6 linked regions of the Homo sapiens genome follow. The protein of the gene in region 4 purifies or fractionates together with the protein of the main gene of each other region. This does not show direct contact. Each region holds a gene or a part of one and is shown on either strand. Other genes may lie near its edges. The genes, in order: MMUT, TMLHE, PDPR, ARHGEF26, DEK and CKMT1B.

What was found.
Region 1: the proteins of ARHGEF26 (region 4) and MMUT purify together in Homo sapiens (affinity purification with mass spectrometry, with the first as the bait; one large-scale study listed by BioGRID). This does not show direct contact.
Region 2: the proteins of ARHGEF26 (region 4) and TMLHE purify together in Homo sapiens (affinity purification with mass spectrometry; one large-scale study listed by BioGRID and IntAct). This does not show direct contact.
Region 3: the proteins of ARHGEF26 (region 4) and PDPR purify together in Homo sapiens (affinity purification with mass spectrometry; 2 studies listed by BioGRID and IntAct, with this or other methods). This does not show direct contact.
Region 5: the proteins of ARHGEF26 (region 4) and DEK purify together in Homo sapiens (affinity purification with mass spectrometry; one large-scale study listed by BioGRID and IntAct). This does not show direct contact.
Region 6: the proteins of ARHGEF26 (region 4) and CKMT1B purify together in Homo sapiens (affinity purification with mass spectrometry, with the first as the bait; one large-scale study listed by BioGRID). This does not show direct contact.

What each region holds. Positions count from the first base shown.
Region 1 is NC_000006.12:49,445,065-49,450,629, forward strand, and holds part of MMUT (methylmalonyl-CoA mutase, mitochondrial precursor), read right to left. Parts: intron 3,864-5,565; coding exon 3,752-3,863; intron 2,722-3,751; coding exon 2,606-2,721; intron 1-2,605. UniProt on the Homo sapiens protein: Catalyzes the reversible isomerization of methylmalonyl-CoA (MMCoA) (generated from branched-chain amino acid metabolism and degradation of dietary odd chain fatty acids and cholesterol) to succinyl-CoA (3-carboxypropionyl-CoA), a key intermediate of the tricarboxylic acid cycle.
Region 2 is NC_000023.11:155,514,250-155,519,814, forward strand, and holds part of TMLHE (trimethyllysine dioxygenase, mitochondrial isoform 1 precursor), read right to left. Parts: intron 17-5,565; coding exon 1-16. UniProt on the Homo sapiens protein: Converts trimethyllysine (TML) into hydroxytrimethyllysine (HTML).
Region 3 is NC_000016.10:70,153,767-70,159,331, reverse strand, and holds part of PDPR (pyruvate dehydrogenase phosphatase regulatory subunit, mitochondrial isoform 1 precursor), read right to left. Parts: intron 2,993-5,565; exon of another isoform or gene 2,858-2,992; coding exon 2,453-2,857; 3' UTR 1-2,452. UniProt on the Homo sapiens protein: Decreases the sensitivity of PDP1 to magnesium ions, and this inhibition is reversed by the polyamine spermine.
Region 4 is NC_000003.12:154,239,890-154,243,389, forward strand, and holds part of ARHGEF26 (rho guanine nucleotide exchange factor 26), read left to right. Parts: intron 1-480; coding exon 481-690; intron 691-3,500. UniProt on the Homo sapiens protein: Activates RhoG GTPase by promoting the exchange of GDP by GTP. Required for the formation of membrane ruffles during macropinocytosis. Required for the formation of cup-like structures during trans-endothelial migration of leukocytes.
Region 5 is NC_000006.12:18,222,419-18,227,654, reverse strand, and holds the end of DEK (protein DEK), read left to right. Parts: intron 1-1,412; coding exon 1,413-1,481; intron 1,482-1,924; coding exon 1,925-1,936; 3' UTR 1,937-3,795; downstream 3,796-5,236. UniProt on the Homo sapiens protein: Involved in chromatin organization.
Region 6 is NC_000015.10:43,594,962-43,599,906, reverse strand, and holds the end of CKMT1B (creatine kinase U-type, mitochondrial precursor), read right to left. Parts: coding exon of another isoform or gene 4,936-4,945; coding exon 4,737-4,935; intron 4,534-4,736; coding exon 4,438-4,533; intron 4,052-4,437; coding exon 3,830-4,051; exon of another isoform or gene 3,829-3,829; intron 3,701-3,828; coding exon 3,615-3,700; intron 3,500-3,614; coding exon 3,376-3,499; intron 2,532-3,375; exon of another isoform or gene 1,715-2,531; coding exon 1,580-1,714; intron 1,081-1,579; coding exon 955-1,080; intron 751-954; coding exon 634-750; 3' UTR 501-633; downstream 1-500. Other genes in the region: STRC (stereocilin precursor), read left to right, coding at 147-235. UniProt on the Homo sapiens protein: Reversibly catalyzes the transfer of phosphate between ATP and various phosphogens (e.g. creatine phosphate).

The sequences.
Region 1 (5,565 bases), on a different chromosome or scaffold from region 4:
ACATTGTAAACAAGTGGGTCTTTCATATGAAGTATTTTGAAGGAACACTAAAGATTAATAGTGACAAGAAAAAAAATCAAAACTTAGAGAATATTTTAGTTATATTTTAAGTTTCCTTTAGATAAATAACAATGTATTGATAATAATATGCATATTGCTATACTTTTATTTAAAAATAATCTCGAGAGCGAAAGAGGGACTAAGAAAAAGATATACAATGAAAAGCACAGTAAAAAAGTTTTCCCTGGGTCCTAACTCTGCTCTGCCAATAATTTGTCAAAATAAAGTTGCATAAATCCATTTTTTTACAAATTGTACCACCTGTAAAAGAGTCTAAAATATACTGCTCAAGATGCCACTAGTATTATATAGCATATATAAGCAGAGGTACAGAAAATTTATAGTCATCCCTCAGTATCTGTGAGTGATTGGTTTCATGACCCACTGCCCACCCTATCCACAGATAGCAAAATTCAGGGATGTTCAAGGCCCTTATATAAAATGATGTAGTGTTTGCATATAACCTATGTACATTTTCTTGTATACTTTAAATCATCTCTAGATTACTTATAATTCCTAATACAATGTAAATACTATATAAATAGTTGTTATAGTGTATGGTTTAGGAAATAACAAGAAAAAAGTCTGTACATATTCAGTACAGACATATCCATTCTTTTTTTCTCAAATATCTTCAATTCATTATTGGTTAAATCTATAGATGTGGAACCCACAGATATGGAGGTCCAACTATATTTAGAGCAAGAAAAAACTCAACTCCAAATTCTCCATAAAAATGCCCATTTTTCTTTATCTTTTATTGGAGAAAGAAACAATAAACACATACAATTTAAGAGAAAAATAAAGTAAATCGAGTAAATAACGAAGTGATTTGGCACAAGGTAGTAGGGTGCTATTGTAGATATTGGATCACTGTAAGCTTCTTAGATAAGGTGACATTTGAGCAAAGACCTAAGAAGTACACCTTTTCTGGTTTACTAGAAAATTAGTCATCCTTAGATTAGGTAGTTTGCTATAATTATCTCAACAACAGATTACTAAAATTCAGGGAGTGAAAACAGATGCTAAAATTAATTAGGGCTGACGGTTACAGAAAAATAATTTAATATAAAATTACTGTTGAGATAGTTCACATTTTTAAAAAAATTACCACCACAGGTAAAATATTGTTAAAACCATAGGTAAAAGGAAAGCGTAAGAAAATATAAACTTGAGTTCATTACTAAAGAGAGCTCAGAGTATTGCAGCAGAAATATATTTTGCTATAAAAATATCTGATTCTAGCTATGAAAATTAATTTTTGTAATAGAAGAACTTTGATTTGGTCATGGTCCTAAGAAAGTTCAAAACTAGGAAAAAGTTACATCAGAATATCCATTTCTCCTAAACTGGCTCTAGAGTCAAAAAGCCTGCATTCAAATCCCAGCTTTGTCACTTATACTATAAACTTGAGCAACTAAATGAGACTCTCCAATCATTAGTTCCCTCATCTGTAAATGGAAATAAAAATAGTAACTACCTGTTAAATAAAACAATACACAAAAACAACAATTCAAGAAAAGGATTTAGTACAGTATGGGTACACAGTAAGTGCTCAATAAATGTTAACTATTATTGCTATATTGTCATTAATGAATTTCTCTCTGTTGCCCAAAATAAGGCTTATCATTATTTATGATAAATGAAATCCTTCAGGCTATGAAGATATAAAGTTAATAACCTAAAGTATAACAGAAAAGAAAGGGTTTTCCAAAAATAAATACTATTAGATTTTTATAGATTGAACTAAAAAAAAAGCCATACATTAAACAATCTCAGGAAAAGTAAACAAAGAAAACCATTAAATGTATAAGCTCCCTACCTTGGAAACAGCAGTACTTACAAATGCCAAAGATTAAGAGGCCAAAGTAGCTTCATACAACAAAAATATATAGGTTACAACAGTGACAATTAATTTGATTTATCTATTTTAGTATTTCATATGCTCTGGATCAACTCAGTGACAAACTAAAAATAAGAAGGGAATACGATACTCTAGTTTCAATCAAAATAAATAAAGTTTATTGTAAACTGTACCTTACTAAAGCACTACCAAATATAGTTGAATTTTAAAAATCAAAAAGCAAGTAATTATTTCAAAGTAGTATCAGATGCCATCATTCTGGTGAAAGAAATTACAATAAGAAGCCCTGGGTTCAAATAATAACTCTAAACTTTATTCTGTTTTTAATTTTTAGTAAGTTACATAATCATCTAAGCCTTGGTTTTAATCTATAAATTATGGAAGGTATTATTATTGTAGTGTGGTTTTTAATAACAACTTATAAGTTTCACAGAGGTAGATATCATGGTTTAAAACAAGTTTTTGGTGTCAACAGACTAAGACTGAGTCCTGGTTGTCTATTTATCCTGAGCAAGTTTCTCAATGCCTTATCTTTAGTTCCCTTACATTTGAAATGATGGAAATTAATACACACCTCATGCTGTTGTAAGGATTAATTTAAGCAGGACAGTTTAAAAGCTTAGCCAGAGCCCAGAACACAGAAAATACTTAAAAAAAAAAAAAAAAGCAAGCTATTAATACCTTCTTAAGTTTTTCAATCTGCCTGTTTCGCACTGAAGTATTATCAATTGCCAGAACTTCTACAGCGTCTTCTTTTTCCAACTGGTACTTATTTACTCCAACAATTACTTCAGAACCTGGTAATTTCCCAAAGAAAAATTTTATTCACAAATAATTACCTAATTGTAATGCTCTGGTTATGATGTATTTTCCTTATAAATTTAATATCTTTAAGTAGTATTCTTAATTCTTAATGCAACTTCAATATAGATCAGCAAATCCCAATCTGAGAAGGGGGTGTGAGAGGAAAGTAGAGGTATATGTCAGAGTCTCTGTAAGGAAGGACTTTCATTATTCTACCAAACTATTAATATACACTTTCCCACGGTTTCTAATAAATCTTTTAACACTTCGAAATAACAATCAGAGCAGCTGCCATCTAAGATTTATAAGGTAGAGAATGAATACCCAGTAGCTTTTCTAATATTTTTTTGAATTCAGCCAGTCACTTTTAAACAAAAAAAGAACCCTTCTATAATCTATTAGTAAATCAAAATTACAAAGATACTTCCTTACATGATAAAGAATATATTTTACCTCAAACTACCAGATTATTACTCTTATATAAAACTTCCCACAACCCCTACCCCTGGTTATACTCCTTCATATTTCCTTCATAGCACTTATCATGATCTATAATTCTTTATTTACTTGTTCATTTTCCTCTCTTTTACTAGAATGTAAGATTTGTGTGCATAGAGGTCATAGAGGTCATGTCTGTCCTGTTCACAGTTGTATGCCCAGACATAGCAAGTGCCTCAAACAAAATAAACTAAAGAAGTATTCATTGAATGAATGAATACTCCAATGCAGAGAACACTGTGATCATCAACAGTGTCATCTTCAAAATGTTAATGACATCTACCCACAAACATGTACATATATACAATGGTTAGACATCCACACACACTTTGTACATATGCTTGCCTGTGTGCATCCATGTATGTGAAAATACATATATAGATAGATACAAGTATATGAGAAAAAATTTACCCAAGTTCCATTTTTCATTATTTTTGTTTTGTTAACTATACATGTTATCTTCAAACAGAAATGAATTTCTTTTTAACTACTGGATTTCATATATGAACTTTCTCACTATCTTACCAGAATCTATTCTAGCTTGTCTTCGGGCAGCACATTCTTCAATTCGAAGTTTAGGTATTCCCTCAGCTACAGCTTTGGCCATTCCACCCATTTCTTCAATTTCATTAATGAGCTAAAAAGAAAAACATTAACAAAACTAAAAGAGAATATTAAAAATGTGTGTAAACTATATAAATTTGTTATGAGTGTTATATAATTACTAATATTAATAAAATTATAAACTAAATGTTAATGTTTCATAAGAACAGAATTAAATAAACATCAAAGTCATTAATTAGAATTTGTGTGTTTATAGTTACTTGAAAAGACAACTAACAAGTATATTCCAAAAAACACAAAACCTCTTAAGTCTTGGGAGAAAATTAAAGCAACATCAATTCTCTAATCTTTATTTTTAGGTACATAAAGTTTTCATAATTACATAAAGTCTGTAAGAAAAATATATTTTAAAATGCAATTTACTTTTGATTTGAGCTGCAGAGAAACAATGTAACCTCATCTTTAATGAAATCAGGAAACATTTAAACCTTCAATCATAGCTTCATATATGAAGGCAGAAAACAGACAGTGGAATGATATATGACTTAGCAGAAAGGATCAAGGTCAACCTGCTTTTCCCTGATGAATTCAAGAAAGAAGAATCTATATTGGATTCTACGTAAGTGTAAAATGAGAAGCTAAAAAGAAGAAGACAATTTGAGAGTCTGCAACCACCCCTCTCTCATTCTGTCAGGAGAACCAAAGTTTACTGTCTACAGAAAATGAACTCGAGACACAATGAACTATCAAATACCAAATACAGACAGAAGTAAGGGTAAGATGTCTTACTGAAATAAAAGCCTGTACTCTGACTAAAGACTAAAAACAAAAAGCACAGAGAGAAAATGGAGACAATACAGGATGTAAAAGAAAACTTCAGAAAATATCATGAATTCAGAATATAAATGGATTCTGTACTAATGAAACAAATGAAGATGACATTAATTATAAGGGGGAAATTAGAAAACAAAAATGAGCTCTACGAATCAAAAATATAATACATGAATGTAAAAATAAGTAGAAATATAAAGTTGACAAATCTTTAAGAACACAGAAAAAAAAGGCAAACAGATATACTATAGAAAAGATAAGAGCAGGCAGGGAGCAGTGGCTCATGCCTGTAATCCCAGCTCTTTGGGAGGCCAAGGTGAGTGGATCACGAGGTCAGGAGTTTGAGACCAGCCTGACCAACACGGTGAACCCCCGTCTCCATTAAAAATACAAAAATTATCCGGGTGTGGTGGTGTGTGCCTGTAATCCCAGCTACTCGGGAGGCTGAGACAGGAGAATCGCTTGAACTAGGGAGTCAAAAGTTGCAGTAAGCCGAGATCACGCCACTGCACTCCAGCCTGGTGACAGAGTAAGACTCTGTCTTAAAAAAAAAAAAAAAAAAGATAAGAACATCAGCACATCAGGATATTATTTAAGGAGGTCCGTAGCTTATGACTAGGAGTTCTAGAAAGAGAACCCATATGAAAATGACAAGAAAAATACTGTCAAAGAAATAATACAAGAAAATTTCCTAGAGCTATAAAAATATTTTTTAAAAAAAGGTGAGATGAAAAAGACCCAATAAAGGTTCAGTACCATGTAGGAAAAAATACACCAAGTTATACATCAATACAAAAAATAAAGAAGAGGTCCCAATACTTTCAGAAAGAAAGATCCTGAATGAGAATGGCATCAAATTTCTGATCAGAAATATTGAAAGCCAGAATAAAAATCTAGAATAAAAAACAGATCAATGCTTATAAACTTGCTTATGAATTTCCTGA
Region 2 (5,565 bases), on a different chromosome or scaffold from region 4:
ACATGACCATCTGGCCCTTTTAAGGGGAAAAATAAAAGGCACTATAATAATTACAAATAATGTCAATATTTGTAATTGGTTACAACTAGTTAAGAATCTTTTTCCTAGCAATCAGTTATCCAGTACTGTATTGTTTATGAAACCAAATTAAAATGAATGCCTAGAATGTTTCTGAGAAAGAAATATGTGTGGTTTGAGTGGTATGCATGAATAAATGAATGAACAAATAAATCTTCCCAGAGGCTAAATAAGTTTACAGAATTATAGTTATATAGTAAAAGATCTTCTGGAAAATTCATCAAGTCATCAAAGAATGATAATCCAAGTAGGCTTTTACAAGCCTACTTGGCACTCTCTCCCCTTGCCCCCATCCCTGTCTTCCATCTATATAGGAACTCAGAATGTTTGAGCTAGAAGGGGCTAATCTTTATTTTACAGATGGAGAAAAAGTCAGTGACTCACTCAAGATCACACAACTAAGTACTATAGGTGGAACTAGAACCCCACCTTCTTGCTGCTACAAGTTCAGTACTATTCAATGCTGCCTTCCTCTTCTACATGATGTAGGACATTGCTGTCTAATTATATGACATCAACACAATACAATAAAATTACTTTGTAAGTGGCTTCACCTGCTGTGCACACCCCACCCAAAAAAAGTTGAAAACCAACCCTGAAATGCTTTAGAAAATCTTCAGGATAAGCAAAGGAAGCAGCAGAAGGAGTGAAAGACTATGTTGACAACTTGTCTCTCCTTTTTACTTCTCTCTCTTTTCCTCCCTCCCCTTGGTAAAAAAGTATCACACTTTGGATAATTTGGAAAGCATAAAAAAGTATGAGGAAATTAAAAGTCACCATGTTTATCATTCTATCACCCAGATGAAACTATGATTGACAGCCTGGCATCATTCCTTCCAGTTTTTCTGTACATTCTCTTATTTTATGTAATTTATGTATATAAATATAGTTTATGTAATTTATATATATAAAATTTGGGACTCTGCCATTGTCACTTAACATTTTAACAATTTTTAAAATTAAATTTTATCATTTTAAAAATTCAACCTTCATTAAAATTAATTTTTAAAGCTTACAAAATATACATTACCAAGATTTACCTAACCCATCTGTTATTCTGGGTATGTACATTTATTTTTAAAAAATTTCCTATTATTTATTAGTGATCATCTTTAACCATATTTCTATAATTTAGAAATAGAATGTATATTACATTTCTTAAAAGTTCGTATCTTTGTATTTAGAAATTTCAAAGATATAAACTTTTAAGAGTTCTGATATACATAATCAAATTACTTTTTAGAAAGTCTACTTATCTTCATTCCCTCCAACAGTACATATGTGTCCATCAAAATGGAGTATTCTTATTTTTAAAATATATTTTTTTCTAATTTGGTAACTAAAGTGGAACTGCTATCTTGTAATAATTTTAACTTATTTGCTTACTAAGGCTAATAAGAATACTTTCTATATTTGTTAGACATCTATGTTTCTTTAATGCAGGGACTACCAAACTATGGTTGATGAGTCAAATCTGGTGCTTGGTTTTGTAATGCCTGTTTCAGAACACATGCTGTCCATGTTGTTACATATTGTCTATAGCTCCATTCACTCATATAGCCCACAAAGTTTGAAAATATTTACCATCTGGCTCTTTATAGAAAATGTTTGCTGACTCCTGCTTTAATGATTTGTCTGTTCAGTCCTTTCTCACATTTTTCTATTGGAACAATTGTACTTTTCTTCTTTTTTTTTTTTTTTTATTATACTCTAAGTTTTAGGGTACATGTGCACATTGTGCAGGTTAGTTACCTATGTATACATGTGCCATGCTGGTGCGCTGCACCCACTAATGTGTCATCTAGCATTAGGTATATCTCCCAATGCTATCCCTCCCCCCTCCCCCGACCCCACCACAGTCCCCAGAGTGTGATATTCCCCTTCCTGTGTCCATGTGATCTCATTGTTCAATTCCCACCTATGAGTGAGAATATGCGGTGTTTGGTTTTTTGTTCTTGCGATAGTTTACTGAGAATGATGGTTTCCAATTTCATCCATGTCCCTACAAAGGATATGAACTCATCATTTTTTATGGCTGCATAGTATTCCATGGTGTATATGTGCCACATTTTCTTAATCCAGTCTATCATTGTTGGACATTTGGGTTGGTTCCAAGTCTTTGCTATTGTGAATAGTGCCGCAATAAACATACGTGTGCATGTGTCTTTATAGCAGCATGATTTATAGCCCTTTGGGTATATACCCAGTAATGGGATGGCTGGGTCAAATGGTATTTCTAGTTCTAGATCCCTGAGGAATCGCCACACTGACTTCCACAATGGTTGAACTAGTTTACAGTCCCACCAACAGTGTAAAAGTGTTCCTATTTCTCCACATCCTCTCCAGCACCTGTTGTTTCCTGACTTTTTAATGATTGCCATTCTAACTGGTGTGAGATGATATCTCATAGTGGTTTTGATTTGCATTTCTCTGATGGCCAGTGATGATGAGCATTTCTTCATGTGTTTTTTGGCTGCATAAATGTCTTCTTTTGAGAAGTGTCTGTTCATGTCCTTTGCCCACTTTTTGATGGGGTTGTTTGTTTTTTTCTTGTAAATTTGTTGGAGTTCATTGTAGATTCTGGATATTAGCCCTTTGTCAGATGAGTAGGTTGCGAAAATTTTCTCCCATGTTGTAGGTTGCCTGTTCACTCTGATGGTAGTTTCTTTTGCTGTGCAGAAGCTCTTTAGTTGAATTAGATCCCATTTGTCAATTTTGGCTTTGGTTGCCATTGCTTTTGGTGTTTTGGACATGAAGTCCTTGCCCATGCCTATGTCCTGAATGGTAATGCCTAGGTTTTCTTCTAGGGTTTTTATGGTTTTAGGTCTAACATTTAAATCTTTAATCCATCTTGAATTGATTTTTGTATAAGGTGTAAGGAAGGGATCCAGTTTCAGCTTTCTACATATGGCTAGCCAGTTTTCCCAGCACCATTTATTAAATAGGGAATCCTTTCCCCATTGCTTGTTTTTCTCAGGTTTGTCAAAGATCAGATAGTTGTAGATATGCGGCATTATTTCTGAGGGCTCTGTTCTGTTCCATTGATCTATATCTCTGTTTTGGTACCAGTACCATGCTGTTTTGGTTACTGTAGCCTTGTAGTATAGTTTGAAGTCAGGTAGTGTGATGCCTCCAGCTTTGTTCTTTTGGCTTAGGATTGACTTGGCAATGCGGGCTCTTTTTTGGTTCCATATGAACTTTAAAGTAGTTTTTTCCAATTCTGTGAAGAAAGTCATTGGTAGCTTGATGGGGATGGCATTGAATCTGTAAATTACCTTGGGCAGTATGGCCATTTTCACGATATTGATTCTTCCTACCCATGAGCATGGAATGTTCTTCCATTTGTTTGTGTCCTCTTTTATTTCCTTGAGCGGTGGTTTGTAGTTCTCCTTGAAGAGGTCCTTCACATCCCTTGTAAGTTGGATTCCTAGGTATTTTATTCTCTTTGAAGCAATTGTGAATGGGAGTTCACCCATGATTTGGCTCTCTGTTTGTCTGTTGTTGGTGTATAAGAATGCTTGTGATTTTTGTACATTGATTTTGTATCCTGAGACTTTGCTGAAGTTGCTTATCAGCTTAAGGAGATTTTGGGCTGAGACGATGGGGTTTTCTAGATAAACAATCATGTCGTCTGCAAACAGGGACAATTTGACTTCCTCTTTTCCTAATTGAATACCCTTTATTTCCTTCTCCTGCCTGATTGCCCTGGCCAGAACTTCCAACACTATGTTGAATAGGAGCGGTGAGAGAGGGCATCCCTGTCTTGTGCCAGTTTTCAAAGGGAATGCTTCCAGTTTTTGCCCATTCAGTATGATATTGGCTGTGGGTTTGTCATAGATAGCTCTTATTATTTTGAAATACGTCCCATCAATACCTAATTTATTGAGAGTTTTTAGCATGAAGGGTTGTTGAATTTTGTCAAAGGCTTTTTCTGCATCTATTGAGATAATCATGTGGTTTTTGTCTTTGGCTCTGTTTATATGCTGGATTACATTTATTGATTTGTGTATATTGAACCAGCCTTGCATCCCAGGGATGAAGCCCACTTGCTCATGGTGGAAAAGCTTTTTGATGTGCTGCTGGATTCGGTTTGCCAGTATTTTATTGAGGATTTTTGCATCAATGTTCATCAAGGATATTGGTCTAAAATTCTCTTTTTTGGTTGTGTCTCTGCCCGGCTTTGGTATCAGGATGATGCTGGCTTCATAAAATGAGTTAGGGAGGACTCCCTCTTTTTCTATTGATTGGAATAGTTTCAGAAGGAATGGTACCAGTTCCTCCTTGTACCTCTGGTAGAATTCTGCTGTGAATCCATCTGGTCCTGGACTCTTTTCGGTTGGTAAGCTATTGATTATTGCCACAATTTCAGAGCCTGTTATTGGTCTATTCAGAGATTCAACTTCTTCCTGGTTTAGTCTTGGGAGAGTGTATGTGTCGAGGAATGTATCCATTTCTTCTAGATTTTCTAGTTTATTTGCGTAGAGGTGTTTGTAGTATTCTCTGATGGTAGTTTGTATTTCTGTGGGATTGGTGGTGATATCCCCTTTATCATTTTTTATTGTGTCTATTTGATTCTTCTCTCTTTTTTTCTTTATTAGTCTTGCTAGCGGTCTATCAATTTTGTTGATCTTTTCAAAAAACCAGCTCCTGGATTCATTGATTTTTTGAAGGGTTTTTTGTGTCTCTATTTCCTTGAGTTCTGCTCTGATTTTAGTTATTTCTTGCCTTCTGCTAGCTTTTGAATGTGTTTGCTCTTGCTTTTCTAGTTCTTTTAATTGTGATGTTAGGGTGTCAATTTTGGATCTTTCCTGCTTTCTCTTGTAGGCATTTAGTGCTATAAATTTCCCTCTACACACTGCTTTGAATGCGTCCCAGAGATTCTGGTATGTGATGTCTTTGTTCTCGTTGGTTTCAAAGAACATCTTTATTTCTGCCTTCATTTCGTTATGTACCCAGTAGTCATTCAGGAGCAGGTTGTTCAGTTTCCATGTAGTTGAGCGGCTTTGAGTGAGATTCTTAATCCTGCGTTCTAGTTTGATTGCACTGTGGTCTGAGAGATAGTTTGTTATAATTTCTGTTCTTTTACATTTGCTGAGGAGAGCTTTACTTCCAACTATGTGGTCAATTTTGGAATAGGTGTGGTGTGGTGCTGAAAAAAATGTATATTCTGTTGATTTGGGGTGGAGAGTTCTGTAGATGTCTATTAGGTCTGCTTGGTGCAGAGCTGAGTTCAATTCCTGGGTATCCTTGTTGACTTTCTGTCTCGTTGATCTGTCTAATGTTGACAGTGGGGTGTTAAAGTCTCCCATTATTAATGTGTGGGAGTCTAAGTCTCTTTGTAGGTCACTGAGGACTTGCTTTATGAATCTGGGTGCTCCTGTATTGGGTGCATAAATATGTAGGATAGTTAGCTCCTCTTGTTGAATTGATCCCTTTACCATTATGTAATGGCCTTCTTTGTCTCTTTTGATCTTTGTTGGTTTAAAG
Region 3 (5,565 bases), on a different chromosome or scaffold from region 4:
AGTCTGTTGCTCAGAGGGGGAAACTGATGTCATTTAACAGGAGGTCAGGATTTCTGGTTCTACTTCAACAAACAGTGCATAATTTTGGACACAGCATCAGATTTCCTGACTTCTTACAAAGGACAGCTAATTAAAAACGTGTCAATCTGTAGTAATTAGTTGGAGATTAACAAGGGCAGAAGAGAATCCAAGTCTTAAAACTCTATGTGGGATACATTTCTGATGAAGCTTCTATTTGACTAATATACTGTGATGATGGCACTATTCGATTTTAAACTATGGAGACAGCTTTTATTATTTCGATTTGGATCCTGGTAAGTGGTGATACTGCTATGTAACAGTTAAAGCACAAATGTATTGCCATAGTTAAGGTTGAAGAGTTATGTCTATGTGTAACTAAATTCTTCTGGATTCAATTACAAATACGTTTTCCTTTACAAAGATGGCTTTGGAGGGGTGCAAATGCTACGTGTTTGGAAGAGCAGAGGAGGCCTGCAGCTCTCAGTCACCTGTCTCCATCTTCGGAGGTAAGTCTGCTCCCTGCTGGTAATGCCTGCATCTGCCCAAGGGCCTGTTCCTCCTCTCCCAAGGCCTTCACAGCTGGTGTTCACTGGTTGGCCCTCCAGCCGGCAACACCTCTCCTCCTCTCTGCCTAGAGGCAGCATCTCTCGGCTAGTTAAGTACATACTTGCTCCAAGACAACTAGACCCCCAAACAGAATTCTAATCATATGCTCCTCTAACAAGCCAACCAGAACCTTCCAAAAAGGTTTAGGCACTAAAGTCAGTAATCACTAGGAGTGGTCTAGTTGGGGAAGTGGCAAGAAATGTCTAGAAGGAGCCAGCGTAAGTGGGTAAACAGAGATCCCAAAGAAACACCAGAGAAGGCAGACACCTGAGCATTTTAAGCTGCTCTAATGAAATGGAAGGATGTCCCTTAATACACTTATAGACCTATCAGAGCTAATGCTTCCAAGATACCAACACGCCAAAGGCTAGAGTTTTACTAACCAAAATGTCTTATAGCAGTTTATTTGCACTTAAAAAAAGTCAGATTAGGGCAGTTGATATGCAAGGGGAAAATGAAGCATTGAGGCTGGACAACAGTCCATGATATCTAAGTTTCACCTTGGGAAAACAGAGACACTGCCTGAAAGCGCAGGGCACTTCTGGGCACCCACATTGTCTCCTGCTCCAGAGGATATGGAAGGGTGGGTGGAGGGAAACAAAGAGCCTGGGGGGAAAGGAGGAAAAGCGGTCTCTAGCCTTATGCAACGTACACCCTTTGGACTCAGAACTCTCAGTGGACTAACGTGGGTCACCTCTGTGTAGCTCTGCTCTGTGCTGGAGAGTCAAACCTGGAATTCCGGCAGCTCTCTGGAACTCAGCACAGCCCGCAAGGTTGAAAGGCCCAGGACAACACACCTGATCCCTTCCCCTCCCTATTCTAAAGGGAGAGAAACATGACTTTATGGGCCAACTGTGAAAGGGACAAGTGAGGCTGACCTGACAAAGTCAAACGCACTGGGAGAAGGGGAAGGAGGAACGGCTGAACTTTGGACAGCTGAGAGAAAAGCAGCATTGTTTCCATAGCAGAACACTCAGCATCACTGGTGGGGACTTTCTAAGGTCAGACCCTTTTGACTGGGAAAAGCAACACACAAGGCAATATGGTTTTTCCCTTTCAAACACTGTGGCTTACTTGTTTACTCAACTAAGAAAGAAAAAGCAACCTTATTATAGAGATTAGCAAGAGATGAAGAAAATTATAGGGAGGCTGCCCTGGCCCAAAGGTCTGCTAATGGCTTCTGCAGGGAGGATGAGGATGGTGCTAGGTTAACTGCTTGTCTCCACTACAGACCAGAGAACGTCCATGCGATGCCTCTTATCAGTGAGGTAGATAATCATCCTCTTGCCAGAGGTATCGAGTGCCAGCCCACAGCACAGCAGAACAGGAGAACGAGCTGCCGGGCTGCAGGCACGAGCTGCCCCTCAGGGCTGCATCCGACACACGGCAACCCCACCAGAACTAATAGGCTGCTCCAAGAAAATGGAACCCAAGGGAGAGGGACTCGTGCCCTGAGACCTGCACCACCCCGGCTTGCCCTGCCTTGAGATGCAGAATTTGAAAGCAGCTGTCACCATCACTCATGTCCACAGTGGAGCTTGCTTCTGTCCTGTCAGACATACCTCCTGCCACCACGAGAAGCTGAGTGAGGGGTGGGAAGGGAAGAAGAGCCCAGAGTGAATATTAGGAGGAGGAGGTGGAAGGGCAAGGAAGGCTGCAGAGCAAAAAAGTTTAAAGTAGGTCAAGTTCAAAATTATATCAAGGAGATAAGAGATGGGAGGCAAAGGCTCCAGAAGAGGAACAGAGGCGGAAGGAAGAGAAGCTCCAAGGTGACGCCCACTCTAGGACAAGATGATGGGGAGGAGGTGAGGCTGCCCTGGTGGCATCACTTCCCATGTAAGTCACTCAGCTCCATGTCATCCTTTCGGCGCTTCTGGGTGAAGAGGGAGGCGACAGGGTAGAGCTTGGCCTTGGCCTGGAAGCGGTATCCCGCGATGTCAATCTCATACTCTCCCCGGTTGATGAAATCTGCTGTCACCACTTGCTCTTCCCCCGTGTCCTCAGAAAAATTGTGCACAAAGCCCAGGCAAACGTGGCGCTCCAGGCTGTAGCTGTAGGCACTGCTGGTGGTCTTGCCAACATACTGCCCATTCCGGTAAATGGGCTCTCCCCACCAAGGCCAAAGGTCTAGGTCTGAATCATGGTCGTCCAGGATGAACATGGTGAGGCGTTTATACACTCCATTCTGCTTCTGCTGCAGGAGGGCGTCGCGACCAATGAAATCCATGCCCTAAGAAAGAAAGGAAACGCCGAGTCATCCAGCGACACTCAGACCCTCGGCACAGAGAGCAGCACCGTGGGAAGGGTCCCCTGGTGTCACTGCAATGGGGCACAGCCGCCTCCTCCCACAACCCTGCCAGCTTTTGGGAAACTGTGCGATTTCTACCATGTGAAAAACTGCATGTGAAATATAAAAGACGCCGCGGTAATTTTTGTAACAACAGAGGTACGCATTTTGTTTCCTATTTTATAAACATAAAGTCACAAGACCAGATAGAACAAAAACGTTTAGGAAGAAAACTCACTCACTTAATAAAATACCTTATCAGTCCAGTACTTTAGAAAAATGTTTTTATATTGGCCAGTCGTGGTGGCTCACGCCTTGAACAGAGATGAGGCAAACCTCATCTCTACTAAAAATACAAAAATAAGCTGGGTGTGGTGGAGTGTGCCTATAGTTCTAGCTACTTGGGAGGCTGAGACAGGAAAATCACTTGAACCTGGGAGGCAGAGGCTGCAGTGAGCCAAGATTCTGGTGGAGTGTGCCTATAATTCTAGGGAGACTGAGACAGGAAAATCGTTTGAACCTGGGTGGCAGAGGCTGCAGTGAGCCAAGATTGCACCACTGCAGTCCAGCCTCGGTTGACACAGCAAAACTCTGTCTCAAAAAAAAAAAAAAAAAGACTTTTTTATATAATCCCAACAAGACCATGCACATCTATATTCAATGCATACACACATATATACACATATGTACAACAAATAAGACTAGAATAAACTATTAACGGTGATTATGGCCAGGCACGGTGGCTCACGCCTGTAATCCCAGCACTTTGGGAGGCTAAGGCGGGGGGATCTCCTGAGGTCAGGAGTTCGAGACCAGCCTGACCAACCTGGAGAAACCCCATCTCTACTAAAAAAAGAAAAAATACAAAAATGCCTTCTCATGCTCAAGTGATTCTCCCACTTCAGCCTCCCAAGTAGCTGGGCCCACAGATGCGCCACCACACCCACCTAATTTTTTGTATTTTGGTAAAGACAAAAAATACAAAATTAGCTGGATGGCTTACAGCTACTCGGGAGACTGAGGCAGGAGAATCGCTTGAAGCCAGGAGGCAGAGATTGCAGTGAGCTGAGATCGCGCCACTGCACTCCAGCCTGGACAACAAGAACGAAACTCCGTCTCAAGAAAGAAAAAAAAAATAGTTACTACCATTAAATAGACAAAATATGGGTGATTTTAATTTCCTTCTTTATATTTTCCAAAATGGGTTATTACCTTTTTTTTTTTTGGAGATGGAGCCTTGCTCTGTCACCCAGGTGGGAGTACAATGGTATGATCTCGGCTCACTGCAACCTCTGCCTCCCAGGTTCAGGCAATTCTCCTGCCTCAGCCTACCGAGTAGCTGGGATTACAGGTGCCTGCCACCATGCCCAGCTAATTTTTATATTTTTAGCAGATACGGGGTTTCACCATGTTGGCCGGGCTGGTCTCGAACTTGTGAACTCAGGTGATCCGCCCAAAACAAAAAAACCAAAAAAATTAGGCCGGGTGTGCTGTCTCACGCCTGTAATCCCAGCACTCTGGGAGGCCGAGGAGGGCGGATCACCTGAGCTCAGGAGTTCGAGACCACCCTGGCCAATGTGGTGAAACTCTGTCTTTACCAAAATACAAAAAAATTAGCTGGGCATGGTTGTGCATCTGTGGTCCCAGCCACTTGGGAGGCTGAAGTGGGAGGATCACTTGAGCATGAGAGGGCATTGCAGTGAGCCAACATCGCGCCACTGCACTCCAACCTGGGTGACAGAATGAGACCCCACCTCAAAATCAAAAACAAAAGAAAAAAACCACAAAAATTAGGCAGCTGACTATAGGACGACTAGTTTGTACAAATATTCGTGGCATGTTAATGCATCACCATAATTAACTCAGAATAGCTTCCCAGAAAGCACTCAGTCTTTTAGACAGCAGAACACTAGAAATAAGTGGGTTTTTTTGTTTGTTTTTCAATTGTAATTCAGAGACAAGGTCTTGCTGTATTGCCCAGGCTGAGCTCAAGTGATCCTCCTGCCTTGGCCTCCCAAAGTGCTAGGATTACAGTTGTGAGCCACCGCACCTGACCAAGTGTCATCTATTTACTATGTTTTCTTTTTTCTGAGACGGAGTCTTGCCCTGTCACACAGGCTGGAGTGCAGTGGTGCGATTTTGGCTCACTGCAACCTCTGCCTGTTAGGTTCAAGTGATTCTCCTGCCTCAGCCTCCCGAGTAGCTGGAACTACAGGTGCTGGCCACCACGCCCAGCTACTTTTTGTAAATTTTTTTTTTTTTGAGACGGAGTCTCGCTCTGTCGCCCAGGCTGGAGTGCAGTGGCGTGATCTCGGCTCACTGCAACCTCTGCCTCCTGGGTTCACGCCATTCTCCTGACTATAGGCGCCCGCAACCACACCCGGCTAATTTTTTGTATTTTTAGTAGAGACGGGGTTTCACTGTGTTAGCTAGGATGATCTCGATCTCCTGAACTTGTGATCCGCCCGCCTTGGCCTCCCAAAGTGTTGGGATTACAGGTGTGAGCCACCGTGCCCGGCCTACTTTTTGTATTTTTAGTAGAGACGGGTTTTGCCATGTTGGCCAGGCTGGTCTCGAACTCCTGACCTCAGGTGATCCACCCGCCTCAGCCTCCCAAAGTGCTGGGATTCAGGCGTGAGCCACCATTATTA
Region 4 (3,500 bases):
GGGTGTCTTGCCAGAAGCAAGCAGACCTCTGGGGCTCTTCTCTTCAATGCATGGTCATTTGGAGATGGGGGGTTTGGGGGGTGAGGTCTTGTTACCCAGAGCATGAGTAGAAGGCTCCTCCTTCATTCTGCAAATAGAGATGTGGAAGCTGGGGAGGTACACCTGCTGGAGCATGACCAAGATGCATGTAAGGATGCAAGGATCACTTATTATAACAGTTCCAGGATGATGTCAATACTTGAGATGCAATTTAGTGTGTTACATCCATAAAAATAGTAATTAGGTTTAATTGGAGGGGGTTACATTGATTCATAATCAGTAGATAGAATTCAAATTCCAATTCATAGTTTAAAATAAGTCATTCTTTCCCTCTCCTTCCTGCCCACTCCTTGCTGTTTCCACCAAAATGTGCCTCGAAAACTGACAATGTCAGTCTTATCTGCTGAATAATTGACGTGTTCTTTTCCCTTTCCTTTACAGTGAAGAAAGTTACAACGTCAATGATTATTCCTTAAGAGATCAGCTATTGGTGGAATCTTGTGACAATGAAGAGCTTAATTCTTCTCCAGGGAAGAACAGCTCCACAATGCTCTATTCAAGACAGAGCTCTGCCAGTCACCTCTTTACTCTGACAGTCCTTAGTAACCACGCGAATGAGAAAGTGGAGATGCTACTAGGAGCTGAGACGCAGTAAGTATATGTGGGGAAAAGATTGGAATAGCTGATAGTATCTCCCTGACCTGATTTTCTTTGGTTTACAGACTTCCTAAAAACAGCAGCTACTATTCATGTTTTTGTTGAGCACCTACTGTTCGCTAAGCACTATGACTGGGTAATTTTTACAGATGTTGTTCTTTTCATTGTAATCTTCTTACAGGAGAAGGATGTTGTTATTTTTTCCCTATAAGTCCTGATAGATGCACTGTGCTTTAGGTGATGTCTTTATTTTTATAGAGTGGTTTAAAAATCATTTTACTTTTTTCATTGACAAAAATATGATACACTATCCTTAAGGAATATGACTCAACTGGTATTTTGAGTCTAGGCCATAAGCCTTCTTAGGTAATGGAATTCAGGTCGTTTCTCAGTCACCTACCTTCAACCAGAGAGCAGAAAGCCCAATGATTTCTGTCAAAAGAGCTACCCAGTTTACGGAAATATACTGATAAATCCTCTTTCTAATCCAGAGTTTATGCACGACCAAAACAGGCGTCCTGTTGGTGCCTGCAGTTTCGCCAGCAGTTAGTGTGCACTTAGTTCTCACATTGGATGAGTGGCAGTGAGGGTTAACTTTCAAGTCCACCTTAGTGATTTTTTGGTCCACTTAAAGATGACTGACCAATGTTTTTGTTTAGAAACTGGAAACTTCCTCTTGCAATAATCATCATGGGCAGATATTATATTGGGTCAGAGAGTGGAACAGTGGAGGGAAAGGAGAAGTTCCCTAATTCTTTGTCCTCTCAGATTCCTGCCTCCAACTCCATGTCTGCCAGGGTTCCTAAATGGTGTGGTTAAAATGGATCAGCAGCTGATGAATAACAACCCTAAAATTGTAGCAAGATCTTAGAGAAAGTGATCCCAAAGAGGTATCTTCACCTTAAGACTGATTTTAACAGTGTTCCTAGATGATTAACGAGAATATTCAAGAAAAGTTATTGAAGGACACTTGCTAAAGCGCAGTAAGCTTCGCAGCCTTTATGCAAGGTCATCTTAACAGGCGTAAGGACCATTGCAGCAACGTCTCCAGTAGGGGAGAGAGATTGGGCTCAACTTCCAACACAGCATGGGCAAGTGGGAATTCATAGCCATAGGGCAGGATGGAGGTCAGTGGATGGAAACTTACTGAGAGGAAATATCAGAGATAAGGGCTATTCTGGCTAAACTAACCAAACAGGATTCTTGCTGAAGACAGGCCAGGGTAATTAGACATCATAACCTCTGGGATGATGGAGAATAATGAATCTTATCAGATATTGAGGATGGGGTAGGGGATATTCTTGCCAAATTGACTTAGTAGGGTTCTTTGCTAAAACTGGATTTTACGAAGAACTGTACAGATGAGCCTAGGAGAAGGTACAGAAATCTAACTGAAGTTTGGCCAAGCCAAGAATCTTTGTCAAGAGACATAAGAAAAATGTGAAAATTACAAGGCACCCACATAAAATGTCAAATTATTTCATATCTTTTGGCACTAGAAGTAGCATTTCACAGGCTAGAGAAAAAACCAAGGACAGGTTGGTGAAAGCTGTAGCATATTCCAAATGAGCTGGAGAGTTCACCAAGGTAATGAAAAAAGAAATATATTTCATAAGGCTACAGCTACCATAGACAGTGGTTCCTCTGATGGATCTGGGCAAAGTAAATTAAAAGCCTTCTGGAAAAGATTCACCATCGTAGATGTCATTAAAAACATTCATAATTTCATGGGAGGAGATCAACATATCAACATGAACAGGAGTTGGGAAAAGTTGATTCCAACTCTCATGGATGACTTTGAGGGGTTCAAGACTTCAGCGGAGGAAGCAACTGCAGATGCAATGGAAATAGCGAGAGAACTAGATTTAGAAATGGAGACTGAAGATGCAACTGAATTGCTGCAATCTCATAATAAAACTTGAACAAATGAGGAGTTGCTTCTTCAGGATGAGCAAAGAAAGTGAAGTTGCTGTGAGCATTGTGGAAATGACAACAAAGGATTTAGAATATTCCGTAAACTGAATTGATAAAGCAGTGGCAAAGTTTGAGACGATTGACTCCAATTTTGCAAGAAGTTCTGCAGAGGATAAAATACTATCAAACAGCATTGCATGCTATACAGAAATCTTTCATGAATGAAAGAGTCAATTGATGCAGCAAACTTCACTGTGGTCTTAAGAAACGGCCACAGCCACCCAAACCTTCAGCAACCATCACCCTAGTCAGCAGCCATCAAAAAAAAAAGGGAGCTTCATCTTCATGTGTTTGTTTACAAAACAAACAAATGCCTTTCTCTGAGATCCCAGAGTTCTTCCCCTAAAGGTGCTGAAAAGCGCTGATGGCATTCCAAGCATGCCCCTCTGTGTTTGCGGCTGTGGGGAGGTGAGCTTGGGTGGGCGTGTGCTTGCTGATCTGTGAGGTGACCAGCAAGTGACACACCCAAGACCAGGGTCAAGGGGAGGCATTACTTGAACTCCAAAAGTGGTTTAAACCTCTTGGCCAGTGAGGACAAACTAGACTTCCTTTGTGTGGGGAAACTTCTCCTCAAAACAGAATTTTTAGTATGCCTGTGCTTTGGATTTTATATGACTTTAAGGATGAGAATGACTTTAACACTTTGGAAATCAGTAATTTTCCAGTGTTCCAGAGAATTCTCAGAAACTAGAGACTTCCCTTTCCCCGTATAGTTAGTAATGGTGAAAGTGTTGCTGGTTTTGCCTTGTGTTTTCCTTTTCTTTGGTTTACAAGGATTGTTTGTTCTTTATTCAGGCCTTGCCAACATCTCAACAGAGATTTTCCTGACT
Region 5 (5,236 bases), on a different chromosome or scaffold from region 4:
TTAGGTGAAACGAGAGACTTAGAAAAGAAAAAGACACAAAGTATAGAGAAAGAAATAAGGGGACTCAGGGGACCAGCGTTCAGTATACGGAGGATCCGGCCGGCTTCTGAGGTCCCTTAGTATTTATTGGTCATTCTTGGGTGTTTCTCGGAGAGGGGGATGTGGCAGGGTCATAGGATAATAGTGGAGACAAGGTCAGCAGATAAACATGTGAACAAAGGTCTCTGCATCATAGTCAAGGTAAAGAATTAAGTGCTGTGCTTTAGATATGCATACACATAAACATCTCAATGCCTTACAGTATTACTGCCCGCATGTCCCACCTCCAGCCCTAAGGCGTTTTTCCCCTATCTCAGTAGATGGAACGTACAATCGGGTTTTATACCGAGACATTCCATTGCCCAGGGACAGGCAGGAGACAGATGCCTTCCTCTTGTCTCAACTGCAAAGAGGCGTTCCTTCCTCTTATACTAACCCTCCTCAGCACAGACCCTTTAAGGGTGTCGGGCTGGGGGACGGTCAGGTCTTTCCCTTCTCACGAGGCCATATTTCAGACTATGACATGGGGAGAAACCTTGGACAATACCTGGCTTTCCTAGGCAGAGGTCCCTGCAGCCTTCCGCGGTGTTTGTGTCCCTGGGTACTTGAGATTAGGGAGTGGTGATGACTGTTAACGAGCATGCTGCCTTCAAGCATCTGTTTAACAAAGCACATCTTGCACAGCCCTTAATCCATTTCACCCTGAGTTGACACAGCACATGTTTCAGAGAGTAACAGCATCTCAAGGCAGAAGAATTTTTCTTAGTACAGAACAAAATGGAGTCTCCTGTGGTCTACTTCTTTCTACACAGACACAGTAACCATCTGATCTCTCTTTCTTTTCCCCACACTCTGTGGTCCAGGCTGGAATGCAGTGCCACCAACACAGCTCACTGCAACCTCAACCTCCTGGGCCCAAGCCATCCTCCTGCTTCACCCTCCTCAGTAGCTGGGATTACAGGCATGCATGACCATGCCTGGCTACTTTTTAAATTTTTTGTAGACACAAGGTCTCACCAGGTTGCCTGAGGCTGGTTTCGAATTCCTGGGCTCAAGTGATCTTCCCACCTAGGTTTCCCAGAGTGTTGGAATTACAGGCGTGAGCCATCACATCTGGCTTGTTTATGGTTAGTTAATTCATTCCAGACTCTCAGCCTGAAAACACTGAGAATGTTTGCATGCTAGTTTTCCACATCATATACAATATTATTAAAATACTCATTTGGAATAGAATTCCATATGGGTTAACCAGAGTACTGTTGGGATGGTTGTGGCTATTTGCACGTAGCAGATTTCCTGCTTTTATTCAAAGACAATATTACTGGATTTTAAAATCTGCTTTTAACATTATTTTTCCTTTTCACTATACATAGGTCTATGAAAATTATCCTACTTATGATTTAACTGAAAGAAAAGATTTCATAAAAACAACTGTAAAAGAGGTAAATATTTCAGTCTTTCAAGTTTGACTTTAGAAATATAAGACAAAAGTAATTACATAAAATACTCCATATTTTTCAAAATATTCATGTCACTAAATATCACATTTGATCCTCACATTTCTTCATAATAGGGAAATTTATTTCTTCTCATTCCCACTTTAAAGCTTAAAATTAAAGTTTGAACAGTTAGTGATAAGACCTGAACTCAGATTATGATGTGGCCTCATGGTGTACCTGGGTAGCTGGGCATCTCAACGTTGCTCTCACAAATACTTGAGGAAGTTCCTGTCTACGAGGCAAAGGTGAGGGGAAGATCAGCAGGTAGCTGTAATTCTGTATTGATCTCAACTGATTTTTGAAGGACAAAATAGTAAAATAGATGTGGAAAAAATGGGATAAAGGTTTATGATTTATGGCAAAATAATGTTTCTCTTTCATTACAGCTAATTTCTTGAGATAGAGGACAGAGAAGATGACTCGTTCCCATAGATTTGAAGATCTGATTTATACCATTATACCAGCAAAGAGAATGTATTTCCTTTTCTAAATCCTTGTTAAGCAACGTTAGTAGAACTTACTGCTGACCTTTTTATCTTGAGTGTTATGTGAATTTGAGTTTGCTGTTTTAAATTGCATTTCTATGCCATTTTTAGTTTAAAATCTTGCATGGCATTAATTGTTCCTTGCTTTTATAGTTGTATTTTGTACATTTTGGATTTCTTTATATAAGGTCATAGATTCTTGAGCTGTTGTGGTTTTTAGTGCACTTAATATTAGCTTGCTTAAGGCATACTTTTAATCAAGTAGAACAAAAACTATTATCACCAGGATTTATACATACAGAGATTGTAGTATTTAGTATATGAAATATTTTGAATACACATCTCTGTCAGTGTGAAAATTCAGCGGCAGTGTGTCCATCATATTAAAAATATACAAGCTACAGTTGTCCAGATCACTGAATTGGAACTTTTCTCCTGCATGTGTATATATGTCAAATTGTCAGCATGACAAAAGTGACAGATGTTATTTTTGTATTTTTAAAAAACAATTGGTTGTATATAAAGTTTTTTTATTTCTTTTGTGCAGATCACTTTTTAAACTCACATAGGTAGGTATCTTTATAGTTGTAGACTATGGAATGTCAGTGTTCAGCCAAACAGTATGATGGAACAGTGAAAGTCAATTCAGTGATGGCAACACTGAAGGAACAGTTACCCTGCTTTGCCTCGAAAGTGTCATCAATTTGTAATTTTAGTATTAACTCTGTAAAAGTGTCTGTAGGTACGTTTTATATTATATAAGGACAGACCAAAAATCAACCTATCAAAGCTTCAAAAACTTTGGGAAAGGGTGGGATTAAGTACAAGCACATTTGGCTTACAGTAAATGAACTGATTTTTATTAACTGCTTTTGCCCATATAAAATGCTGATATTTACTGGAAACCTAGCCAGCTTCACGATTATGACTAAAGTACCAGATTATAATGCCAGAATATAATGTGCAGGCAATCGTGGATGTCTCTGACAAAGTGTGTCTCAAAAATAATATACTTTTACATTAAAGAAATTTAATGTTTCTCTGGAGTTGGGGCTCTTGGCTTTCAGAGTTTGGTTAATCAGTGTTGATTCTAGATGATCAACATAATGGACCACTCCTGAATGAGACTTAATTTTGTCTTTCAAATTTACTGTCTTAAATCAGTTTATTAAATCTGAATTTTAAAACATGCTGTTTATGACACAATGACACATTTGTTGCACCAATTAAGTGTTGAAAAATATCTTTGCATCATAGAACAGAAATATATAAAAATATATGTTGAATGTTAACAGGTATTTTCACAGGTTTGTTTCTTGATAGTTACTCAGACACTAGGGAAAGGTAAATACAAGTGAACAAAATAAGCAACTAAATGAGACCTAATAATTGGCCTTCGATTTTAAATATTTGTTCTTATAAACCTTGTCAATAAAAATAAATCTAAATCACTGGTGTTTTAAGTCACTTGCATTTGATATCTTATAGGTGTATATAGCATTTCCTTATGGGGAATAATTCTGAAAAGGGATTTTTAAATTGATTCAGCCCTATAACCTATACAATTTGGAATACTCTTTTGTGGTAATGGACCATTTTCTTGGAGTGACTTCACAAAACTGAATAATTAAGGTTAATTTTATGACCATTTGCTATAAAGAAGGTAAGTAGTCATGCATAGAGTATTTGGAAGTGAGGAAATGGAGTTGTTCTGTATGAAAGTTCTTGATGAGTACGCACACTTATTAAATGGATGTATCACCACTACAGTACAGAGTACATGTGAAAGTCTAGTTTTTTATTAGTTTTACACAACCAGCTATTCATGAACTGTAGTTAAAACATTGTAAATCTGTATATTTACTGCTACTCAATTACAAAATCTTCAGATGGCATTGAAAAAACATATCCAAAGTAACTCAAGAAAAAAGTACCATGGCTTCTTAAACAAAAAATCAAATGAAGTATGTCACTTGATAGGAAGTTTAAAACACACATTTACCATACTTTAAAGTAGGTTTTCCCCTACTTGTAGCACAGTTCAAGTGCCTGGAAACTAACATAATAATTTACTGTTAACCATTTCAAACTTAACATTTTGCATTTATCACTTTAAAACACATGCTGTCTAAACATTTTAATACATGATACTTTAAAGCAGAATACTTGCCAGTCAGTACCAATGAGTCTCAACAAATAACCTAAATATCAGAGTTGTCTTGGGTTAACTTTTGAGATATACAGCTGTTGGCTTGTTTTGGGACCACACTTTGATTGGGGGGGGCGGGGGGCGGGCGGTGGGGGAGGTGTCTTAAATGCCTGAGGTTCACTGCACATTCTTGGTGTGTTAGGTATTTACTCGTTATAAACTGACCTACTTTTAAATTTTTAAAATACTCAATATTTTGAAGTCTCTTTAAAGTCATATTTAGTCCCTTCTTTAAAGCAAACCAGTATATTATTGTTCAAAAACAAAAGCATATTTCTAACCTGTATACTGAAGTTTCTTGGCAAAATAGGCATCCTGAAGACCCTGCAACCAGTGTTTTATTTTAGAATGAGATATTATTAAACTGTTTTCTGTCATGAGTGTTTTTAAAAAAAAGATAAAAGTAAATACTTGCCATGTTCTTAGGCCTTTAAAATATAGCTTATAAAATGTATACTATTTACCAGGAGAGCTCACATTTTTCTGCAGTTTTCCAGTGGACCTGCCTATGGAATACTGTAAAGAAAAATCTGCAAAAATATTCCTAGCAATTGAATCAGTGCTTTTAAATAAAAGAAGTGGAGAGGGGCTTGGTTAAATTATTCTGACAAGTTTTTTTGCTAGTGGTTGCCAAAATTAAGGATATTTAAAGTGTCCTATCACCCAAATTTGGCTTTAAGAAAAAGCTATATTCTGTGTCTATAGTGTGAAGCCCACACTATCTGTGCTGCATTCTCAATGATACAATACCTATCTGGAAACTTTCCTGTTTTGCCAATGGGTGCACAAATCTAAAACATTTTATCACAAAAGGTACTTGAATTTAAATTTCTTTTGAACACCCAGTAGGAGGAAATATGTACAATACAAAATACCTAGAAGCTTCATTTTACTGTCAACTGGAGTTTGTGCTGTATCCAAAAAAAAGTTCTATCTAAATTTTAAGTAAAAGCTCAATATTGGACCTATATAAAAATTAAGGCTCATTGGTAAAGATACTGATA
Region 6 (4,945 bases), on a different chromosome or scaffold from region 4:
CCCTAATTTGGTGCTGTCTGGCTCTTAGAGTGCACCCAGGGAGATCCCTGGAGTGAAGGAGTCTACAGGCAGAGCGCTAATTTCCAAGTATCAATGCTCCTGGAGAGCTGAGTTGTGATATTACTCCCATTCCCTGTCTATTATAGGTCGAAGTACAGCCTGGGGCCTCCAGGACTGGTCACGACCTTCCTGGTCCCTGGTATTGACTATCAGCTTCCTTGGCCACCTGCTATGAGCCTGTCTCTACAGTAGAAGGAGATTGTGGGGAGAGAAATCTTAAGTCATAATGAATAAAGTGCAAACAGAAGTGCATCCTGATTATTTTCAGAAGCTGATGAGGAATATGGGTAAAATGTTAATGCTTTCCACCCACCTGAGAATCAGTGTTCCTGGGTTGCCATATCTGGAGTCTCTTTCCATCATAAATAATCCCACTGCCTCTTTTCATTTCCTGAAGGCTGCTCCCTCCTCACCCCACCATTAGAAGTAACACAGACAGCTGCAGCATAGCAAGGAGTCTTTACTAGGATGGAGGCAGGGGATGCGGGGGCAGGTCCAGAGCAAGTAGAATGGGCCATCATTAGAATGAGCAGAACTCCTGGGAATCTTGAGTCATCAGCTGGCGATGGGGAGTTAATGCTTGGTGTGGATGACAGGTGTGGGGATGCGGATATCCTGGCCTCTCTCCAGACGCCGTTCACAATCAATCAAATAGTTTACTCCATCGATGACCAGTTGCACCAGCTCCACCTAAGGGACACTAATCTTTGATCTGCTTCCTACAGTCTGAGTTTTTCTTTATCACTGACTGACTTGCCTGCTCATTTCCAATTGCCTCCCCACTCAACCTGAATTTCATTTCAGATTATCTTACATCCCGGAGGCTCACTCACTGCCATATTTCGGCCCTCGCAGACCTATACCTCTCCTTGTCCTAATCCCTTAGGATCTCACCTCTGATTTGCCTAGTCGGTCCAAATTAGAAATATCAAAGACACCGCCTGTAGCAGCAGTGTCCACTCCTCCAGTACCACGTTTTTGGAGTCTTAGGTTCTCCAGGATCTTTGGGAAGCGGCTATCCTAGAGAGGAGATAGGGATTGGGAGCAGGGTCAATAGAGGCAGAGACTAGTCCTACCTGAAAGAGCCCTGAACCTGCTCAGAGCTCTGTCTCCTGAACTTTTTTTTTCCTTTTTTCTTTTTTCTTTTTTAATTTTTTTTAGACAGGGTCTCTCTCTGTCACCCAGGCTGGAGTGATCACAGCTCACTGAAGCCTCGACTTCCCAGGCTTAAGTGATCCTCTCACCTCAGCCTCCACTACACCCAGCTAACTTTTGTATTTGTAGTAGAGATGGGGTTTCACCAGGTTGCCCAGGCTGGTCTTGAACTCCTGGGCTCAAGTAATCTGCCTGCCTTGGCCTCCCAAGTGTTGGGATTAGAGGCATGAGCCACTGTGCCTGGCCTGTCCTCTGACCCTTTAGCCACAACATGTTTGGCTCCTTTCCAAAGGGTCCACTCCCTCCCCATCCACAACCCACCCTTCCTTACTCACACCCCTCTGTAACCCCACAACTCCTTTACTTTGCTTAGCAGGGGCAGTTTGATGTGCACTCCTGCCCGAAGTCCAGTGCCCAGGTTAGATGGACAGGTCAAGATGTATCCCAAACGCTCATTCCACATGAACTCCCAGCCACGTTCTTGGATAAGTCTCTCCACCTGAGTCCACAAAGGTTTTGTTAACGAAAAATCAGGGATATTTCATTAACCCTGGACCCTCCCTTAGCTAGACCCACAAGAACACTAGAAATATGTCTAGAACAGAAACTTGGCTGTGAATGAATGACATTGGTCTTTTTTTAAATGAAAAAGGTTTGTTATTGTTTTCATGCATGCATGATGCAAAATTATGATGTGCATAATAATGAGATTGTGAAAAAATATCTTATGTGGAAGAAGAAAACTCGAAGGAGTGGTGTATTAAGGATGATCTAGGGAAATGAACAGAGGTGGTAAACTGAACTGAGAGATGACTGATTATTCAATGAGGTCTGCATGCATCGATTATCTTTGCTTTGCTAATGAGCCTAGAGCTTAGAAGGGTCCCTTCAGACAGAAGATGAAGGTGTAAGCTTTGCCAGGAAGAGGTAAGATAACATTCTGTTAGCTGTGAACGGAGCACCTGTGTGAATGCAGAGAAAGATGAAAACAGAGCAGAAAAGCCAGATTCATAGGAATAGGGGGCGGGGGGAAGGCGTTTGGCTTCACTTAACCATGTAGTCATGAAGATGACTATTAGAGTTCAAGAGACAAGGGATCTAGCAGAATGATGGTCACAAAGACCACAACCCAACATGAGTAAAGGGATCCTCTTTATAGTTCAGAAGGAACCATGCCATAGGGGATATCTTACATGCTGAACATGGGGGGAAACTCTTCCATCCAGAATAATATTGCAGCTAACACTTTAACACTTATTAAGCACTTACTGTGGACCAAGTACTTTACCTGTATTTCACTTAATCCCCACAACAACCTAAAATGTAGAAAATCTCATTATCCCAATTTTACAGATGAGGAAACTGAGGCATATAATTTAAAGGTACTTCCCTACCCACTCATAGTCAGAATATGTTATCTATTACTTGCCAAAAATAGTAGAAACTTCTCAGAATCTAAAAGAGGAGCTCTTTTTCTTTGCAAACCTAAAATAGAACTGTATGTTTGAGAACATACAGTAAGAATTGAATTGAGTTTATGGGGATTTCTAATGTAGACTTGAATACGGAGACCCAATCCATGTAGGATTGATGATTCAGTTCAACCTCTCATCTAGAGCCACATATTCTAGAACTTGAACCATTCTATCCTCCACCTTCCCCAGTCTCTCTCCGAACTCTCAACTTAAAGCCTAGACCCGATACTTTAACAAGAATGATAGAATCCAGAGTCAAGGCCTACCTTGTCTCAGAACTGGGTGGTTATATTAGAGTCATGAACACAGCAACCTCTCCCCGCCAACATCAATCTAAGCTCGAATGTTTTCCTTATCTGCACACCTCACCATCCCACTGCACACATCCCAGGCACTGACGTGCCATCTCATTTATTCCTTCTTTGCACTCTCTGTCAACAGCCTTGTTCACTTCCTAAGATTCCTGACACTCTTTCTTTTCCTAATCTTAGTGTGACCACATGTCCTGGTTTTCCCAGTATGGTCCCAGCTGGTTTACACCTTTAGTCCTGGAGTGAGTCCTAGATAGTCCTTTTTACTATAAGACATGTCCTGGGTTGGTTGGTAAATTACATAATCTATTTATGCTACTCTTTGGTTTTCCTTATGTCCTCCCACCTAGCTCCCCTACATAGTCTTCTCTAACCTCTTTGAGGCCTCGGCAGAATCTTTCAAACACTCTCTTCATGTTACCACCCTTCTCCATGGAGATCACCCGTGTATGATCCTCCTCATTCACCCAGATCAGGAAGCTCTTCTCATTGTTGTGCCTGAGGGCCGGAGAGGGACAGTGATCAAGAGGCAAGGCAAGAATTGGGAGAGATAGAGGGAAAAAAAGCATTTATGAGGGCATGAAGACAAAAGAGGTAATGAGCAGCTTCATACCAAATTCCACGAGCATCTGGCCAGTCTCGAGCCATTCCTGCTGCAGTCAGCAACGGGGACACAGGCTTATCAAACAGAAAGTGGTCCTGGGAAGAGTAACGGGACTTGGGTTAAGAATCTTCATGGTGGCCCCTGGGCCTTTCAGAGCCCATGTCTCATCTGGCCCAGCCTTCCCCATCTGCTCCCACCAACCAGCACCCTCTTAAGGCCCTCACATCAATAAGCTGCTGCTGTTCAGCCTCTGTCATCTCACTGAGCCTATAGTAACGTCCAGCCAGGTCACCCTTCAGGCCACTCAGTGCATCCACCACAACACGTTCCACCTCTCGTCGCTCTGCTCGAGTGCAAGCTGGAGGCAGACTGAGTCCTCGGATGCTTCGGCCAGTTCTGACTCTAGAGGACAATACATACCTCTCATCAAAGTAGCCAGAACGGATCTGGGAGATAAGGGAAATGAATGTAAGTCACAGAAACACGGTGGGAACTGAGGGCCCCTGGGAAAGGAGAGACCTTCCTTAGGCATTAGAGGACTCTTTGTGCATTCTTCCTGCATGCATTGGAAGAAGAGGCCCTTTGGGAAAGCACTGGAATTGAAGGGGGCATTGCAGACCTTTCCCCAAACCACCCACCTTGGGTCATGGTCATTCTTATCTATCCTTCCATCTCCATATATGCTGCCCCTTAAGATATGATTCTTTCCTTACATTAAGATTAAAAGCTCAGCTGTATAATGACCATGAGTCAGGAAATAAGGTGAAGGGGTTGGAGATACAGAGTGTTGTACACAGGCAATGCAAATCAGAAGTGGGATATTTGAACTCACTTTACTGGCATCTAGATCCGTGGTGTGCTTCATTGTCCGGGGGTCATATCCATTGTGTCGCTCTTGGATCACAGGGTCAAACAGGTCAGCAAATACCTAAGGGGAGTTAAGAGGGAGAGATGGTTAAGGAGAGGGAATCCCTCCCCAGACTTCAATTGTGCATTGATTTCACTGGTTCAGAAAACTTAAGTATGGGGGGCTCAGAGTCTTGGGGGAAAGTGAGAGGTCTTTAGGGGAAAGGAGCTGGGATTACTGGGAAGATGAATTGGATCATCAGGGAGACTCTGGGGACCCCCTACCTCATAGGTCTCCTCATCTCCAGCCACCATGCCCACAGTCTTGATGAAGGGGTGGCCAGGGTTGTCCACGCCAGTCTGGATACACTGATCTAGCGTCCAACCAGTGGGTGTGGTCTTGTCGCAGAGCCGTGCATAGACTGCTGGGGTCAGGTGACTGGCCATGCAGTTGTTGTGCTTTCGGAGGTCTGGGTACTCAGCGCTGGGGAGGG